2 separate regions of the Homo sapiens genome follow, and region 2 is linked to region 1. Evidence: fine-mapped expression QTL. A gene starts in region 1. The other region holds a variant in brackets. All regions are shown on one strand. Distances are between the middles of the regions. Region 1 holds the start of NRIP3-DT (NRIP3 divergent transcript). Region 2 holds the start of SCUBE2 (signal peptide, CUB domain and EGF like domain containing 2).

Evidence for each region.
Region 2: its variant is fine-mapped to the expression of NRIP3-DT in prostate (GTEx, PIP above 0.99).

The regions. Positions count from the first base shown.
Region 1 is chr11:9,000,944-9,009,265 of GRCh38, reverse strand. It overlaps NRIP3-DT (NRIP3 divergent transcript), which reads right to left and starts at 5,178. Exons shown (of 3, transcript NR_183663.1): 1 at 4,723-5,178. NRIP3 (nuclear receptor interacting protein 3) reads left to right here and starts at 5,265. Exons shown (of 7, transcript NM_020645.3): 1 at 5,265-5,504. The coding sequence starts at 5,331. RefSeq lists an enhancer at 5,169-6,088.
Region 2 is chr11:9,089,918-9,098,239 of GRCh38, reverse strand. SCUBE2 (signal peptide, CUB domain and EGF like domain containing 2) reads left to right here and starts at 6,641. Exons shown (of 23, transcript NM_001367977.2): 1 at 6,641-6,844. The coding sequence starts at 6,712. MIR5691 (microRNA 5691) reads left to right here and starts at 7,861; the gene lies at 7,861-7,928. It also overlaps the pseudogene KRT8P41. RefSeq lists enhancers at 1,925-2,424, 2,425-2,926 and a silencer at 2,628-2,833. The variant G/A (reference allele first, on the strand shown) is at 4,788.

The sequences.
Region 1 (8,322 bases):
GTAACAGGTAATCTGTGAAAAGGATATACAGGTGTTTTTTCTACTATTCTTATGTTTGCAACTTTTTGTAAGTTTCAAATTTTTTTTACAAATTAAAAGTTTTTAAATAATCCTGAATGACTTTTCTCTTTGGGCAGTGTAGATCTGTGCGAAAACTGGTCAGACGGAACACTATGAGTGTGAGCGCATGCACATGTTTGCACACCTGGGAGTCTACACATGTTCCACAGAGCACTTCACCTCTCTGCTGTCACTGGCCCCCAGCCCCTGTGGCTTGCCCAGCATGCACACCATCACATCTGAGCAACATGCTTAGTTAACTGGGGGGAAGGAGGTAGAGCCCTCAGTGCTCCTGAGGTAGACAGAAGTTACCCATCAGTGTGAGCCACGCTGCAGGCATTGTCCCCTTTGGCTGGGGCTGACATAAAGAGATAAGGAGCAGGTGGGTTAGGCCTATGCTTTGCTGTATTCTGAGAGACTTGCCATCTTCAGAGTTCTTGTTTCTATACTGCAGAGTTTCCCACTAGGCTCAGAAGGGCCACTCTTTTTCTGGGTTCTCTACCTATGTTGGAGAGGGGAAGGAAAGAGGAACAGGACATATTTATTGAGAGCCCACTTTGTGCCTTTATATATTATTTCACTCAAATGAGACAGAACCCTGCAAGATGGATAAACTGAGGCTCAGAGAGCTTCAGTAACTTGGCCAAGGTCCCATAGCAAGCAAGGGGTGGAACCAGATTCAAAGCTAAGCCTAGACTCCTCACTTCCCCACTTCCACCAGACACACGTCCTTCAGATACTGGTGTTTGTTTTCTTTCCATTATTTCTCCTCTTTTGCTGTCTGAGTTGAGGTCAAAGCCTGTTCTCATCCCGGGAAATGAAACCAAATCACTGGTGACTGTAATGGATCCAAAAGACCCAGGCAACTTTGGAAAACACCAGCAGGGCTGCCATCAGCCCTGTTTCTTGAGGTCATGGTGATGTTGGCAATCACTCTGAAGGAAGAGGACAGAAATATCTCTTATCTTTGCTTTAACTGCCAAAGCAGACACAGTTTTTAGAGCTGGGTGCCAAGTCAGGGGTACCATGTAGCCAGAGATCCTGGCACACATCTGGATAGCTGTTCGAAGAATCTTCCTGCCAAAGGGGGTTGGGGTAGTGGTGAGGACATCTGAGGAGGAAAGGGATCCTACAGCTATAAGGATGGGGTGGTGCATGATGAGGGTCCTAGGAGTGGCCATTCTGACTTCAGGGTATGGCCAAGGGCAATATGCATGGGTAGGGAGGGAATGGGGAGGAAAATTTCTTGGCAGTCTCCCCTTTATCCTCTGCTCTTCTCCTCTACTTTTTAGGCCTCCAAGCCTCAGCACTCATCCTGTTTCTCATTCTTAAAGGCCTCTCTGTTAGCTGAAGACCCAAAAGAGGGTTGCTAGGAGAATAGGTTGTAAGCCTAGAGTCACAAATAGCCATCAGACAGGAAGGGTCTGCCTACAGGGGCATCAGCTCAGAGGAAAGCAGAGCTGAAACACAGTGATAATGTCATTTGAGTCTTTGGATCCAGCCATGCCTGAAGCCCTGCACTTTTAAATTAAGGGGACCAAAAATTTGCATTTTCACATAAGAAATTTTCAACTGGGTATCTGTCACTTATAAGAAGAATAACGTGAATAGCATTCTAACACTGAAACAGTACTGGATTTTCTAGTATGATTTTCAAGTACAGGTCTTCTATAACAGCCAAGGGAGGATGCAGAGAACTTTAGGATAGAGCCATTGCACATGGAAAGTCCAGAATCTGGAGACACTGAGGAGAGGAAGAGAGCTGGCCAGCCCCTGCCTCAGCAGGCCTCTGCTCTAGGGATAGGGTAAGATACTCAAGTCTGGCTTCATGTCTGAAGCTCTGTAGGGAAGCCTGGAGAAAGGATAGGCCAGCCCCAATTCGAGGGTTCTGCAACCTACAGTTTTTCCTGAAGTTGTTCCAGGTAATGATGGTTGCTACCTTCTGCTGAGCCTATGCTACATGACCAATGTATTACACTGTCTATCGTTTTATTTCTCACAGCAGCCCTGAGAAGTAGAGATATTGGCACAATTTTCTAGATGAAGAACTGAAAGCTCACAATGGTGCAGTAACTAACTAGTCACATAGCTAGTAAGCAGCAGAGCAGGGATTCAAATCTAGTGTATTAGACTCCAAAACCTGTGTTTTTAACAACCATATTGTATGTTACTTCCTCCAAGATGGGTCAATGAGGCAGGGGACGTTGATTGGCTATATGGAGAATTAATAATAATCTTTTCTGTTGGTACAGCCCTAGAGAGTTTACAAAGCACAATTGTATATGCAGTCTCACTACATCCATTTTACAGATATGGAAACTGAGGCTCAGAGGTAGGAAGTGATTTACTCAAAGTCATTTGGGCAAACAGGATAAACCACCCAGAGATAACTCTCCTTAAATTAAGCAGGCAGTCTGTAGTCTGCGAATACTCATAATGTGTGGGGGGAGGAAGGAGCTGGCCTCACCACACTGAACCTTGAGGGCAGTGATGGTATCAGTCTGTCCAAGGAAGGTCTCAGACAGGTGAGGGGACCAACAGGTATTGCAGCCACAGACCCAACTGCAGAACACAAATCCCACTACACCAAAGGGCTCTGAATTCACAAAAAGATTCCCAGTTCCAGTCGGGCACCATTTATTTTTCAGCAACACTTGATATGGGCAAATTCCAGTTCAACTAGAGAGATTCAGCTTCCTGGTGTTCCCAGGGGGATCTAGCTCTGAAAAGAGCCCCTTTCTTCTGTCAGGACATCCTCAGCAAAAAAGGCTGCAGGTCTGAGCTGAGCAGCCTGGAGAGTGGGGATTCCAACTCCCCCCGAGAGTGTCTACCTGCCTGGCTTCCTCCCTGAGGAAAGTCACTGTCCCAGCCCAAGCCCTAGGGGCCCTCACTGTTGGACCTGCCCTGATGCTTTGCCAAACTCAGAGGCACCTCTCCTAGACGGACAAGGCAAAGCTGACTTTCACTGTTCCCTGGGTGATCTGCACCTGGAGGAGTGATCAGGCAGGGATCCAGGTGATGGGACAGAAGGGGCCAGGGCAGCCACTGTTGTTCACTGCTGGAAGTGTGCCAGGGGACTGGAAGGTGAACAGCAATCCCACCTGTCTCCTAGAGACTCTGTCCTCCGTGTGTAGGGGAAAGTAGGGGATGGGCACACAGGGAGGAATCCAGCCCTGGGGCTTCCTTGAAGCCAAGTGAGCAGCCTTCTGTATTTGTTTTCCCACAAACAGTCTTTGAAACTGGGGCAAGTGTTGAAGGCAGAACAGAGTAAAAGAAGCAGCTTCATGAGGCCAAACCCAGTCTCTCCAGGTCTAGGTAGTCCAGCACAGGTTCTGGGAGTAAATGCCAGCTTTACCACTTGATTTCTTTGGTACGACCTTAACTTTTTGCCATCCTTTCACTAGTATTTGAGAACCCTCTGCATATTAGGGCATCAATGCTAAGCAAAAAATGGGTTCAGTCACCTTCCTGGAGGTTCCAATCAGTGGAGGAGACAAATATTAATCCAACAACCAGTACCCCCCTACCCCTACCCCCACAGAAAGTGTCAAATGCCCAAGAGATAGATAGTATATAATTAGAGAGACTTCACTCTCTCTGGAAGGTCAGAGAAGGCTTTCCTAAAGAAATGATAATGGAGCTGAGGTCTGGAAGAAGCATAGGAGTTTCCTGAAGAGGGTAGGAGGGGGCACTGCACACAGAGGGAACAGGACAGTCAAAGGCAGGCCATTTGGCAACAGGTGACTGGAAGGAACTGGAAGAAGGCCCATGAGGCTGAAGTACAGAGTGAATATGCAGGGTCTAGGCAGACCATGCAAGAATGTGGGTTTCTCCTAAGAGCAATAGGAAGCCTTTTGAGGTGCTCTTAGCAGGGAAGTGAGATGATCACACTTATCGTTTGAGAAGATTACTCTGGCAGCACAGTGAACAACGTATTGGAATGGAACCAAGGAGCATTCAGGAGGCCAGACAGAAGGTATCAGGTATTTGCCTGTAAAATGGGGGTGATGAGAATACTATCTTACAAGCTGTTGCCAGGATCCAATGAGATACTGCATTTTAAGTGTCTAGTCTAGTACCTGGCACATAGTAAAGGCTCAGTAAGCGTCGATATTGTTACTTTTATCATTGGTTCTTTGCAGAGTGCACATATTTCTTATCCAGGTCTGCTCCTGCGTGATGGGGTGGAGGGAGTAGTTGTGGTTTCCAGAGTGAAAACGTGATTTGTGTCAAATCACAATGTCGAGACCAGAATCCAGGATGCCTGAAGGCCCGATTAGAATGGCTTAAAAGTATGGATTATTCAGGAAGAAAAACGGGTTCCAATCGCTCCTACTAAGGACGCTGGAGGGATGGTGAACGATCCTTTAGATGGTAAGCCCTAGCACTTATTGAGAAAAACAGGTGCTTCTTTGGTCGGAGAGCAGGTGTAGGGCTCGCAGCCGCGTGCGCTCCCGCGGAGGCGGGGGACCCTCGCCACTCCCCCGCCCCACGCCCACCCGCGGGCTTCCGACTGCACCTGCTCCCCCGGCTCGGAAACGCGGGCCGGGTGCCGGGCTGCAGGCAGAGGGTGCCCGGGGGAGGAGGTCCCGAAAGCCTCCTCCACACGCCTGCACCGGCTGCCCCCTCCCCAGTCACGTGGCCCGGTGGGTGGGGACCGACCTGAAGTTGGAGAAATCCGGAGCGCTCCCAACCTCGGAGGGAGTCGCCAGTCCTCCGGGCCCGGGCGGTGGACCCTGGAGCCCCGGCTGGCGGCGTGGAGGTGCGTTTCTGAGAAGCCGAGCAGCGGCGCGGGCGGCGGGACTCGAGGCATGGCCCGGCTGTCGGTGATCCCCGGGTCGGCCACGGCGTGGACAGGTGAGCAGGTACCCGCGGCCAGCGGCAGAGATGGCCGGGGCTGCCAGGGCATCGGGCCCCAGAGCCCACGCCAGTCCAGGGGATGCGGGGCCCCCACGCAGGAGGGGGCGGTTGGGTGAAAAGGCCGCGGTGGATTCTCGGACTGCCGGGTCAGTCCCCACCAGCGCCGCCGCCTCCTCGCCGGCTTTGCCACCGGGTGAGCAGGGGACGCGGGACGCGGGACGCGGGACGCGAGGGAGCCGCGCGGGGCGTGGACTCTGTGCCGGCCCCGCCCCCCGCGCGCGCACTGGCTGCTCCCCGCGACGTCACGCTCGGCTATAAAAGGCGCGGCTCGGGGCCCTTGCGGCGCTGGAGGAGCTCGAGGCTGAGGCTGCCGGGGGGCTGTGGGCTACCGGGCCGCCGGCGCCTCAGCGATGTTTTACTCAGGGCTCCTCACTGAGGGCGGCCGCAAGGAGACCGACATGCGGGAGGCGGCGTCACTGCGACAGCAGCGCCGGATGAAGCAGGCGGTGCAGTTCATCCACAAGGACTCCGCCGACCTGCTGCCCCTGGACGGCCTCAAGAAGCTGGGCTCGTCCAAGGACATGGTGAGCCCCCGCCGCCGTTCTCGCCCCGGCCCCGGCGGCTTCGCGCCCGCCGTTTTCCGAGGCCCGGCCGTTGCGGCTTTCACTGAGTCACGGCCCGGCCCGCCGCTGCCCTTGGCTCGCGGTCGCTGCGTCGCGGATTCCTCCCCTTCCAGTACCCCTGCTGCGGTTTCGGTGGGGATTCCGTCGTAGCTTTTCTAGCTTGCGCTCCCCTCGGCTGTGCCTCCTCCCTGGATGTCTCTTCTCCAGTAGAAAGAAGAGGTCCTGCCCTGCCCTCTTGCCCTCGGGTCTTCTTTCTTTTTCCTTATTCTTAATACCGAATTTTGTTCACGGGGCTTGTGCCTCCTATGCTGTGTGGCTGTTCCTATGACCCAGACAGAGGTGATTCCTAATGGCTTTCCGTGAGGGGGAAAGAAGTGGAAAGAGGGTTTTTTGACAGTTGCCAGATCCAGAGGACTTCTGTTGAATCCATTGTCCCCCTATGCAAAACCCACTTCTCTAGTTTTGGTCCTAACTTTGACCTTCCATCCTGAGTGGGGAGAGAGAAAAGGGGCCAAATGTGAAGGTTTCCTGAACCCCCAACATCTCTTCATCATTCTCCTCTTCCAGCCCCGCCCCCAAGGAGTGGGTAGAGGGAGGAAGCCAGGCTGCTGCATCTCACCGACCAGCTAATGTGTGCATCTGGAGCTGGGGTGGGTGCAGTCTTTTTTTCTAGCACAGTTGTTCCTGGCATTAAGTAGAAGCACCTCAGGACAGGGGGCCTGGGGTCAAAGATGGTACTGTCCTCTTTCTATAGAATGGGATGGATGGCTAAGGGTTACCAATATAAAGAACTGTATTTGTCATCCCTCAGCCACTGTAGTGGTCCTGGGCCAAGTTTATGTTTAACTTTGTAGTTTTATCTGGAGTTTTCTTGTAGTTTGATTGTTTTCTTGAATTTCACAATCGCTTTATTCATTTGGGTGGTAATATGTGAAACACTAATTAAATGTCTTTTAACAAATGAAATAGGTGCTCTGCATAATTTTTCTAGTATTTTTTATTTTAAGCTTTTGAAATATTTAATTTTGGATGTGGTTGTCGGCCCTAGTTCACTGAAATTGCCATTTCTGGCCCCAGGAGGGCAGAGCTTCTGCATCCATTTCCTTTTTTTTTTTTTTTTTTTTTTAATTTAACAGCTCTAATGATACACAGGTACATTATATTATACACAGTATAATATAATATACAAAAATTTTTCTCCTCCCTGCCATTAGTTACTTCTGTGCAGAGTTTGTCTACTTCAGTTATCTTGCTCTGTTTTTTTTACAAGTTGTGTTTTTTTGTTTTGTTTTGCTTTTTGCACAACCCACAGGATAGTTTATCTGATTTATGCTAACCCAGAGTGATAAGTGATTGAAATGTGCTCCTGCAAAAGAGATAACTCTCTTTTCCCTTCTTTCACTTTAAAGCAATCTCGATTCATTTAACAAATCAGGTTCGAGAAGTATTCTTTCCTTCAGGCCAAATAATCCTATCCTAGTTCCTAGAATGCTCAGCAATCAATAAAGAAGGAAGTATTATATTAAGAGAAGAATTAAAATACAGAGTTTTTAAATGCTGGATTTGGTTGTCCCTCGTTGTCGAGGAGTTTCCTAGCCCTGAGAGCTACCTGAACTTCCTTCTGCCTAGGATTTCTTATACTACTTCATGCTGTGTAAGAATTCCATCCGCTTTTCTGACTCTAGTCTGTCTCAGTTGAGTCACAAAGGGCTGATAGCATACAGCACAGGCAGCAGGCTGCAAAGAGGAAGGAGCCTCAAGAAGCAGGATATTGCCTTGAGTATGACACATACACATGACAGTTGACTGTAAGGCTCTGAATCATGGTTCACGCTTTCTGTGCCCCACCGTCATGGAGTTGATTTCCCTCTCTCACTGTTTTCACACCTATAATGTACAAGTGATTGCACAGAACAGCCAGGTTACAGAAACCAAGGCAGACCGAGGTAGGGCTAGGAGAGCCGCAAGCGCTGGGGTGAGGCAGCATGCTTAAACTCTCTTGGAACTGTTGTTGCAGCCTTAGTACAATCTTAGAAGTGACCTTAGAAGTACATTATTATTCTTTTACTTTATAAATACATGTGGGATAGACCAGTGTTGACTCAATTTTCTCTCACTGCAAGGGAAATTTGGAGGATGTTAAAATTAATTGAATAGTTCTTACTTGGAGTAGTTTATAGTATAATCTCGATAGAAGGAGTCCAAGAAAAGGGAGAGGATAGCATCAGAGGGAGATAAGGAAGAGAGAGGAGAAATTAGTTGTTATTGACTTTTGGGTTTGTGAAGATTGTAGGTTGTTTTTCCTCATACCAGCAACCTATATTTGAATATACCGCTGGGATTTCTGAATTATCTACCTCTTACTATGCTGTTTCTGTAATGTTCACTGCTTGATACCAGCCTGCCAGCTCTTTTAGGACTGGCAGAAGGCAACCATAGGAAATCAAAGGGGGTCATGTTCTCTTGGCCCCAGGAAAGTGCCTTTGCCTATTCCTGTGTATCTGGAGTTGGCTGATACAAAGTCTTCTGTGGAAATTATATTTTTGTCTGCCCCTTTTGCTTTTATCCTTTTATCTTGTATTGTTCATTCTGTATTAGATTAAGAACTAAAACCAGAGATATGAGTGAGTAATATTATATTTGATTTTTTTTTTAAGAGACGGGTTCTCACTCTATTGCCCAGGCTGGAATGCAGCTGCAGTCACATCTTACTGCAGCCTCGACCTCGCAGGCTCAAGAGATCCTCCCACCTCAACCTCCTGAGTAGCTAGGATTACAG
Region 2 (8,322 bases), 89 kb before region 1:
TGGCTGATTTTTAAAAACTTTTTGGTAGAGATGAGGTCTCGCTGTGTTGCTCAGGCTTGTCTTGAATTCCTGAGCTCAAGTGATCCACCCACCCTGGCCTCCCAAAGTACTGGGATTACAGGTGTGAGCCACCACACCCAGCAGAACATCATAGAAGTGAATAGAATTGTTACGGGCGGGTCTTTGTTCTTAGAGCTCCCAAGATGGGGCGGGCCGCTCCCAAAATGGTAGCAAGCCTTTTGTTCTCTGACCTGGGGTTCTTGGCCTCACGGATTCCAAGGAATGGAACCTTGGGCCATGAGGTGAGTGTTATAGCTCTGTTAGAAGCCGTGGGTCATGGAAGAGAACCGTGGAACCAGCAACTAGTGTTCAGCTCGATTAGGACAAATCCTGGGCCCTTAGTCATGCAGGAACAATGGCGTGCCTTTAGCCTGATAGGGAGTGGCAGTGGGCGCCTCGCTGGATCAGGAGTGCAGTGAACACCCTGCCGGATCTGGAGGGGTGGAAGTCAGCGGCGGGTCTGCGACGGTGGCAAACAGCAGTGGTGGACTGCGAGCGAAAGCTCAGCTCGAGCCATAACAAACACGGACCAGAAGAGTGTGCAGTTGCAAGATTTAATGGAGTGAAAACAGAGCTCCCATATAATGGGAAGGGACCCAAAGGGGGTTGCCGCTCCCTGCCGGGATGCCTGGGTTTATATCCCGATCATTGTCCCTCCCCCTGTGCTCTCAGGCGATATATGATTTGACTATTTATTTACCTCCTGCTTTTGGCCTAATTTGTATTTTAGTGAGCACTCTTTACTTCCTGATTGGTTGGGTGCGAGCTGAGTTACCAGCCCTGTGTTTAAACGTGGGTGTGGTCACCTTCCCCAGGTAGGCTTAGGAATTCTTAGTCGGCCTAGGAAATCCAGCTAGTCCTGTCTCTCAGAATGATACTACTTGCACCCTTTTTAACCTGGCTTCTTTAACTAGGCCTAATGTTCATAAGGTGCCTCTGTGTGGCTGCCTGTATCAGAGTTTGTTCGTTTTGTTGCTTGGTGTAGTATTCCATTGAACAAATATCCCACAATATGTTCATTATCTAGTTGATGGACATGTGGGTGATTTCCAGTTTGGGGCTAGTGTAAATACAGCCGTTATGAATGTTCTCGTATATGAATTTGGTGAACATGTACACTCATTTCTCTTGGGTATATTCTGAGAAGTGGGCATGCATGATCCATATTAGTGTATACTGCCCGGCAGTTCTCCAGAGTGATTGTACCAAGGGAGCTTGGATGTTAGCCTGAGGAAGACTGGGAGTGATATGATGAAACTTACTTTTAACTCTGGCAGCCACTGTGTTGAATGTACTGAATTGGGATGAGATTCTAGACAGAGAGACCTGTAAGAAATCGCAGACTAGGTGCAACCAGAGTGTCTCCTGGTTGGCTTCTCAGGGTTTCTCTGGACTTACCCTCTTTTGGGCAAGGGAAGGAGGTATTAAGATGGCTGCCACAGTTTCTCATTTACCACAGCCACATCCCAAAGAGAAAAAGAGAGCCTTTCCATTCCAGCCTTTCAAGCAAAGGGCCTGAGATTTGCTCCGATTGGAAATCCGTCACGTGCTCATCCCTGAACCAATGACTGTTGCAGGGGGAATGGAATGAATGATATCAATTGTCTTAAGTCAACTCCAGAGCCTGAAGTTAGAGATGGGGCAGCTTCCTTCCTAGGGACACGGGCTGTCTGCAGGAGGAGTGAGTATCTGTTAGGAAGGAGGAAAGGGATAGATACACAGCCCCCAGGGGTGATGAGGGATGGCGAACCCCTGAGCTCAGGCAATGGGCACAGAGGAAGAGAATGGTTTTAAGAGACAATAAGAAGGTAGAATTTTCTTGATTGTTCGGATGTGGTGGGGAGGGAGATAATGGAGTCCCAGATGACCGCCAAACCTCTGACTTGGTGTTAACAGAATGGTGGTGCCCTTGTCTAAAGGAGAGAGCACTTGAGAAGGAGCAGGTTTGAGGAAGATGAGCTCCATTTGTTTGTTTGTTTTGGACAGTTGGCAGAGCTAGCTGAGATTTTATTTTGAAAAAAAAAAAAAAAAAAGCAACAATTGAATTGTTTTGTAGCTGGAAGCATGGCCAATGGGGGTGCCCCAGGCAGTAAACTCCCCCAGCAGGTGGGCTGAGGGCTAGGGCTGAGCCTCAGGTGAGTCTCCTGTTCCTGTGCTCCACTGCACAGCGGCTTCCTCCACGGGCCCTGGGGCAGCCGCAGGAGGGGCAGGCTGGTAGGGGCTGCCATGGCCATTCACTTGGGCAGGACATCAGAGGACTTGGACACTAGCTTGCCATCTCGCGTTTCCACCTTCTTCACAACCATGGACCTGGAGAAGCTGGCGCGGCTGAAGGAGCTGGAGCCTCCACCAGTGCCAAAGCTGGAGCCCAGGCTGTAGCTAAGGCCTGTTGTAGAGGGCTTGTGAGGTGCCCGTGGGTCGAGCTCAGCCCACCTGAGTAGCCACTGGTGGTCTTCAGATGGACACTCATGTTCTGTATCCCAGACCCCAGCTAGCTCTCCTCGCCCTCCAGCAGCTTCCTGTAGGTGGCGATCTTGATGTCCAGGGCCAGCTTGACGTTCATCAGCTCCTGGTGCTCCATGGCACAGCTGCTGCACCATGTCTTGCTCGGCCCGCTGCAGGGCGGCCTCCAGCTCGACAGCTTCGTGTTGGCATCCTTAACAGCCAGCTCCCCATACTGCTCAGCATCTGCGATGGCAGCCTCCAGGGAAACCCTCTGGCCTTTGAGGCCCTCAGTCTGAGCCTGGAGCCGGCTGATGTTCCTATTAATCTCAGAGATCTCCATCTTTGCATAACGCAGGTCATTCCTATGCTTCCCAGGCAGTGTCTGCAGCTCCTCATACTTGATCTGATGCATGCCCTCAGCCTCAGCCCAGCTGCCATTGGCGATCTCCTTGTACTGCGCCTTGACCTCAGGGATGATGCTGTCCATGTCCAGGGAGCGGCTGCTGTCCATGGACAGCACCACAGATGTGTCCGAGATCTGGGACTGCAGCTCCCAGATTTCCTCTTCATATAGCTGCCTGAGGAAGTTGATCTCGTCAGTCAGCCCTTCCAGAAGAGACTCCAGCTCTACCTTGTTCATGTTAGCTTCAGCCACGTTACCTTCTTGATGAGGACAAATTCATTCTCCATCTCTGTACGCTTATTGATCTCATCCTCATACTTGTTCTTGGAGTCCTCCACCAGCCTCTGCATGTTGCCAAGCTTCAGCTTCTCCTGGCCCAGAGTGTCCAGCTACCGCCGAAGTTTGTTGATGTGGCTCTCGAATATGCTGTCCATGTCGCTCTGAGCTGTCTTCTGCTGCTGCAGGAGGCTCCACTTGGTCTCCAGCATCTTGTTCTGCTGCTCCAGGGACCGCACCTTCTCGATGAAGGAGGCAAACTTGTTGTAGAGGGTCTTGATCTGCTCCTTCTCCTGGGCGCACACAGCCTGGATGTTGGGGTTCACCTCCAGCTTAAGGGGGCTCAGCAGGTTCTGGCTGACCATGATGGCTGTGATGCCCCCCATACCACTGGCCCCACCATAGCCTCCACCCAGAGCCATGCGGGTGCCCAGGCCACCCCGGAAGCTGCTGCTGCCGCCCACTTGAGAGAAGCTCCAGGAGCTGATATGGGCACCAGGCCCGCTTGTGTAGGAGCGGCTGCTTAAGGCCTAGGGGCCAGAGGTGGACACCCTGTAGGACTTCTGGGTCACCCTGATGGACATGGTGGAGGCAGTAGTGGAGGGGTGGGTGGGCTGAACCAGGCAGAGATTCGAGAAAGCAGAGAAGCTTCTTCTAGGTCATGAGCTTCGTTTTGAACATGTTCAATCAGAGGGATCTAGGGAAGATCAAGGTGGGATCTAGGGAAGATCAAGGTGGTATCTAGTAGGCAACTGGATACATGGGATTGAACCAAGGGGATGAATCCAGGCTGGAGATTGACATTATGGAATCAAGGGAATGAGTGAACCATCCAGAGAGAGGGTATAGAAAGAGGACTCCTAGAAGATGGTGGAGAAGGCATTTCCTGAGAGGTAGGAGGAAAACCAGGAGTTTGCCACGATGACAACCAAGGGTAAGGAGAGTTTCCACCAGGGAGAAGTAGTCCACATGTCAGAGGCTGCTGGGGGCGGGGGGGGAGTCAAGAAAGGTGGGCACTGAATGGTGTCCCATGAGTGCAGAGTGGCACCTGCTTATGTGTAGTTCAGGGGCACGCATGGCCGGCCACTACCAGGCTTTCTTCAGCCTCCTCAAAGGCCCACACCAGTGTGACTGGGCTGGCTGGACTGCCTCTTCGCACCCCTGAGGCCTGGTTCATGGCCTCTCAGCCTGTGGAGAGGAGACAGGGAGAGGAAGAGGGAGCTTTAGCCTCAGTCCAGGGACGGTGTCTGAGGCCTTTCTGAGAAGTTTGTGGGGACCTCAGCTGCAGAATAGAGGGCAGCCTGCAGCCAGAGTAGAGCCAACCAAGTTCCTCCTGACACCAAAAACACTGACATTTGGACACAGTTTTCCCCTGGAGCTTCCCCCTGTGGAAATTCCCGGTTGTAAGCCATATTGACTTTAATCTCAAGTGTCAAAAAGGTTGCCCAGGAGTCTGGGAGCCAACAGCTGAAAGCACGTTTGTAAGGATGTCAGCGCAAACAAAATAGGATACAGAACATTTTTTGAGATCTGTGCCAGTGGTGGACTTTTCTGGGAAACATGACAAAAGCTGACAGTCTTAGGCAAAAAGGCGCTGATTCTT[G/A]TCATTATTAATTTATGTCCTTACTGAAAGATCAAGTTAGGGAAAGGTAAAGGGGAAGAATAGCACATGTGTGATTTCTTTGCCAGGCACAAGGGCGCTGCAGGAGGCTCCCCCTAGAGTTTAATGGGCAGCTTTATGTATTTATATGCTTTAACTGGAGCTAAAGAGGTCTGTGCCACACAATGGGCAGTTTCTAGTTGGATTTTAAAAGAAATAACTTTGATCATTTCAAAAGCAATGAAGCCTGATGCAGTGGAGAGAAAAGAAGGCAGTAATTTATGGCTACCATTAAGGACACAAAGACAAAGGTGGAGAGAACGTTTCACTAACTGAAGATTTACAAATGTGTAAAAACCACCCTTATGACCAGAAATAGCTGAGTGTCTCTCTCAGCACCAAACAAAAGGGAGTGGGAGGGAGGCGCAGACAGAAAGAGGGACGCAACCTGCCTGCCTTCACTGAAAGGGTCAAAAGAAAAACAACTACAGAAAAGTTATTTTCTCAGATAGCTCCATCAAGCAGCTGCACTAGCCACAGCCCAAAGAGGCAGGCCCCCGTGGGCATGTTCGGGGGCTGGGGTGGCAGACAGTGGGTACTGAGGGTGCAGAGGCTGGGAGCTCTGGGCTGTGGATAGGCCCCAAGAAGACATAAGAGTTTTTGTGCATGAGCTAGGTGGGGATTTTTTGGTGACATCTATTTTTTTTCTGATCTCCAAAGGAATGGTGTGTGTGTGTGTGCGCGCGTGCGTGTGCCTGCATATATACATATGTGTATGTATATAATCGCAGGAGAAAATTGAATAAATACGGAGAAGCTCAGTGAAGAACATTACTATCCCTAAGTGTGATGTTTGGTTGCGTCCGGAAATTGTTACTATATTTGTTCCTGGAGTGATGGTGGGTGTATTGGGCTCCAGCCATCCGTGTCAAGTGTGATATGGGAAGACCCTGTGTACCTGTTCCCTTGCAAGGACTGTCTTTCATGGAAGGCTAGGTGCTAGGCCCTGCCTGTGTTTGAAGCTAGCCAGACCTGATGTTTATGAGTTCAGGTGATCGTAAATGCCACCTGTACTCCGGCAAAGTCGGGGCTGCTGTCTGTTGTCTCTGGTGGCTCACCTTTGACCTCTAGCCCCCTTCCCCTTAGGCTGCCCTGAGATATACATAAGTAGCTTGCAGGGATTCTAGGCCCAGTGTGCCCCACAGTGGGACAAGTGGACCAGTGCCCTCAGGGCTGTGGGATGGAGGATCCCAGAGGGCCTGGGGTGGGCAGTGTGGAGAAGGGTGCAGAGGGTGTGCTGGGGTGGGCAGAGAAGCCAGGGTCACCTTCTCCATTCAAACAGCTGTTTTCCCGAATTGGAAGTCACCCCCAATTCCTTCCACTCCCACCTCCCACCTCCCACGTGGAAAGCCCCAAGATGGCTTTGGGGTTTGGGGACTATACGGAACACTTTCTGGGCGCCCTGACCCCGAATATTTCAATCTAGAAGGGCTGTTTGTCCTCACATGAGGGCCTGGGTCGAGTTGTAACACACTGGAACAGGCGCGGCACCGAGGGCTCCGAGCGTTGGAGCGGAGCGGGGATGCGGGGGGCAGCGGGCTGGGTGCCAGGGCTGCGCGGGGCGCGAGGCACGGTGCTGCCGCCCCGCCAGGCTGACAGCCGCGCTCGGGCCACCGCGGCCGCGCCCCCTCCACCCGAGGCCGGGGAGGGGACGGGAGGAGGCCGGGCGGGGCGGCACTGCTCCCGCCTGCGCTTCCCGCCCCGGCCCGGGAGGGACCGTGTGAAAATGAGGCCGGGGCTCGGGGGGCGGGCGGGGCCGGGCCGGGGGTGGCAGCGGCAGCGGGCAGGGCGTCCGCGCACACCTCCCCGCGCCGCCGCCGCCACCGCCCGCACTCCGCCGCCTCTGCCCGCAACCGCTGAGCCATCCATGGGGGTCGCGGGCCGCAACCGTCCCGGGGCGGCCTGGGCGGTGCTGCTGCTGCTGCTGCTGCTGCCGCCACTGCTGCTGCTGGCGGGGGCCGTCCCGCCGGGTCGGGGCCGTGCCGCGGGGCCGCAGGAGGGTGAGTGTCCGGCCGCGGGGGCGCACCTGGCACAGCAGGCAGGGCCAGGAAGAGTGTTTAGGTCCCCGGCGGAGTCCAGAGCCGGGCGCGCGGGGCTCGGGGCTGGCGGCTGCAGCTCCGCGGGGGCCTCTGCTCCCCCCGGGACCTCACCCGCCGGCCGGGCCAAGGCGCCACGACCGCTGGGGCCCTGAGTCCTTCGGCCCGGCCTCGGACCCGGAGCTGCTGACGGTTCCCGCCCCGGTCCGGATGCCTCCAGAGCGCCTGCTAGTCAGACCGTCGCCGGCGAGCAGGCAGGAGGGTGCGGACCCTGGCCTTGGGGTCCCGCGCCTCAGCGTAGGCGGGGAAACTGAGGGCCGGGCCGGGCACATCCGCGAGGCGGTGGCAGCTTTGCCGTTTCTTTCTTTGGGGGCCGGCAAGTTCTGCTGATGGCTTCGGGGTGGGCTCCAGAGACTTTTCTGTCAGCGGAACAGCGCCTGTTCCGATCTGGGAATTACCCTGAAGCAGCAACAAGCCTAGGTTTTCAGCAGAGAACTTTGGTTTCCAGAGAGGACTCTGGACGTGCTGTGCTTACTGGACTTGCAATACTTTCAAAATGCTTTTGTTTTTAATTAATATCCTGGAGTAGTGTCAACCCAGGAAATACTTCTGCCAAGGCGGGTTTCCAGGTTGAGAGGATGGGCAGGGGTGGGAGTGCAGGGGGCCGGCCATGGGGACACCATCCCCGCTTCGCAGCATCTGAGAGCCCTGGATGACATCTGCTCCGATCCCGGGGCAGACTTCCCATAAATACTCTAAACCAGCGGGGTGCAATCTTTTGGCTTACCTGGGCCACAGTGGAAGAAGAAGAATTGGGCCACACATAAAATATACCAACACAAACGACAGCTGATGAGCAAAAAAAAAAAATAAATAAATAAATAAAAAAAAAATCTCATAATGTTTTAAGAAAGTTTATGAATTTGCATTGGGCCGCATTCAAAACTGTCCTGGGCTGCACGTAGCCCACGGGCTGTGTTGGACAAGCTTGCTCTGAGCTCCGAGAAAGCTGACAGACAGCTGCTTGGTGTTCAGAGCTTGTCTGTCCGTTTGGTCCTTTCCTCCTTTAGCGGGCATGTAGGTACTATTGCCTACTCACATGCCAGGTACTGCGCTGGCTTGGCATAAGGGACACAGACGCAGTCTGTTGTCAAGACATTGTCTAGTGGAGAGAGAGGAAGGAAAACAGTGACAACCCTGCCTGATGTGTGCATGCAAAGCCATACATATGCGAGCACTTGGTGAGGGCAGCTACAATGGGGGTCATGGCAGGCTTCCTGGAGGAGGTGGATTTGAGCTAAGTCCTGAAGGCCAGTAGGTGATGGTGGGGGTAATTTCACGTAGAGTGTCCGGGCTGTTCCTGGAAACAGGGACCCAGAAACAGTTTGGTTTATCCCAGGGATCCCAAGCAGCTGTAGCTTGTGAGGAGTGAAGCGGGGTGG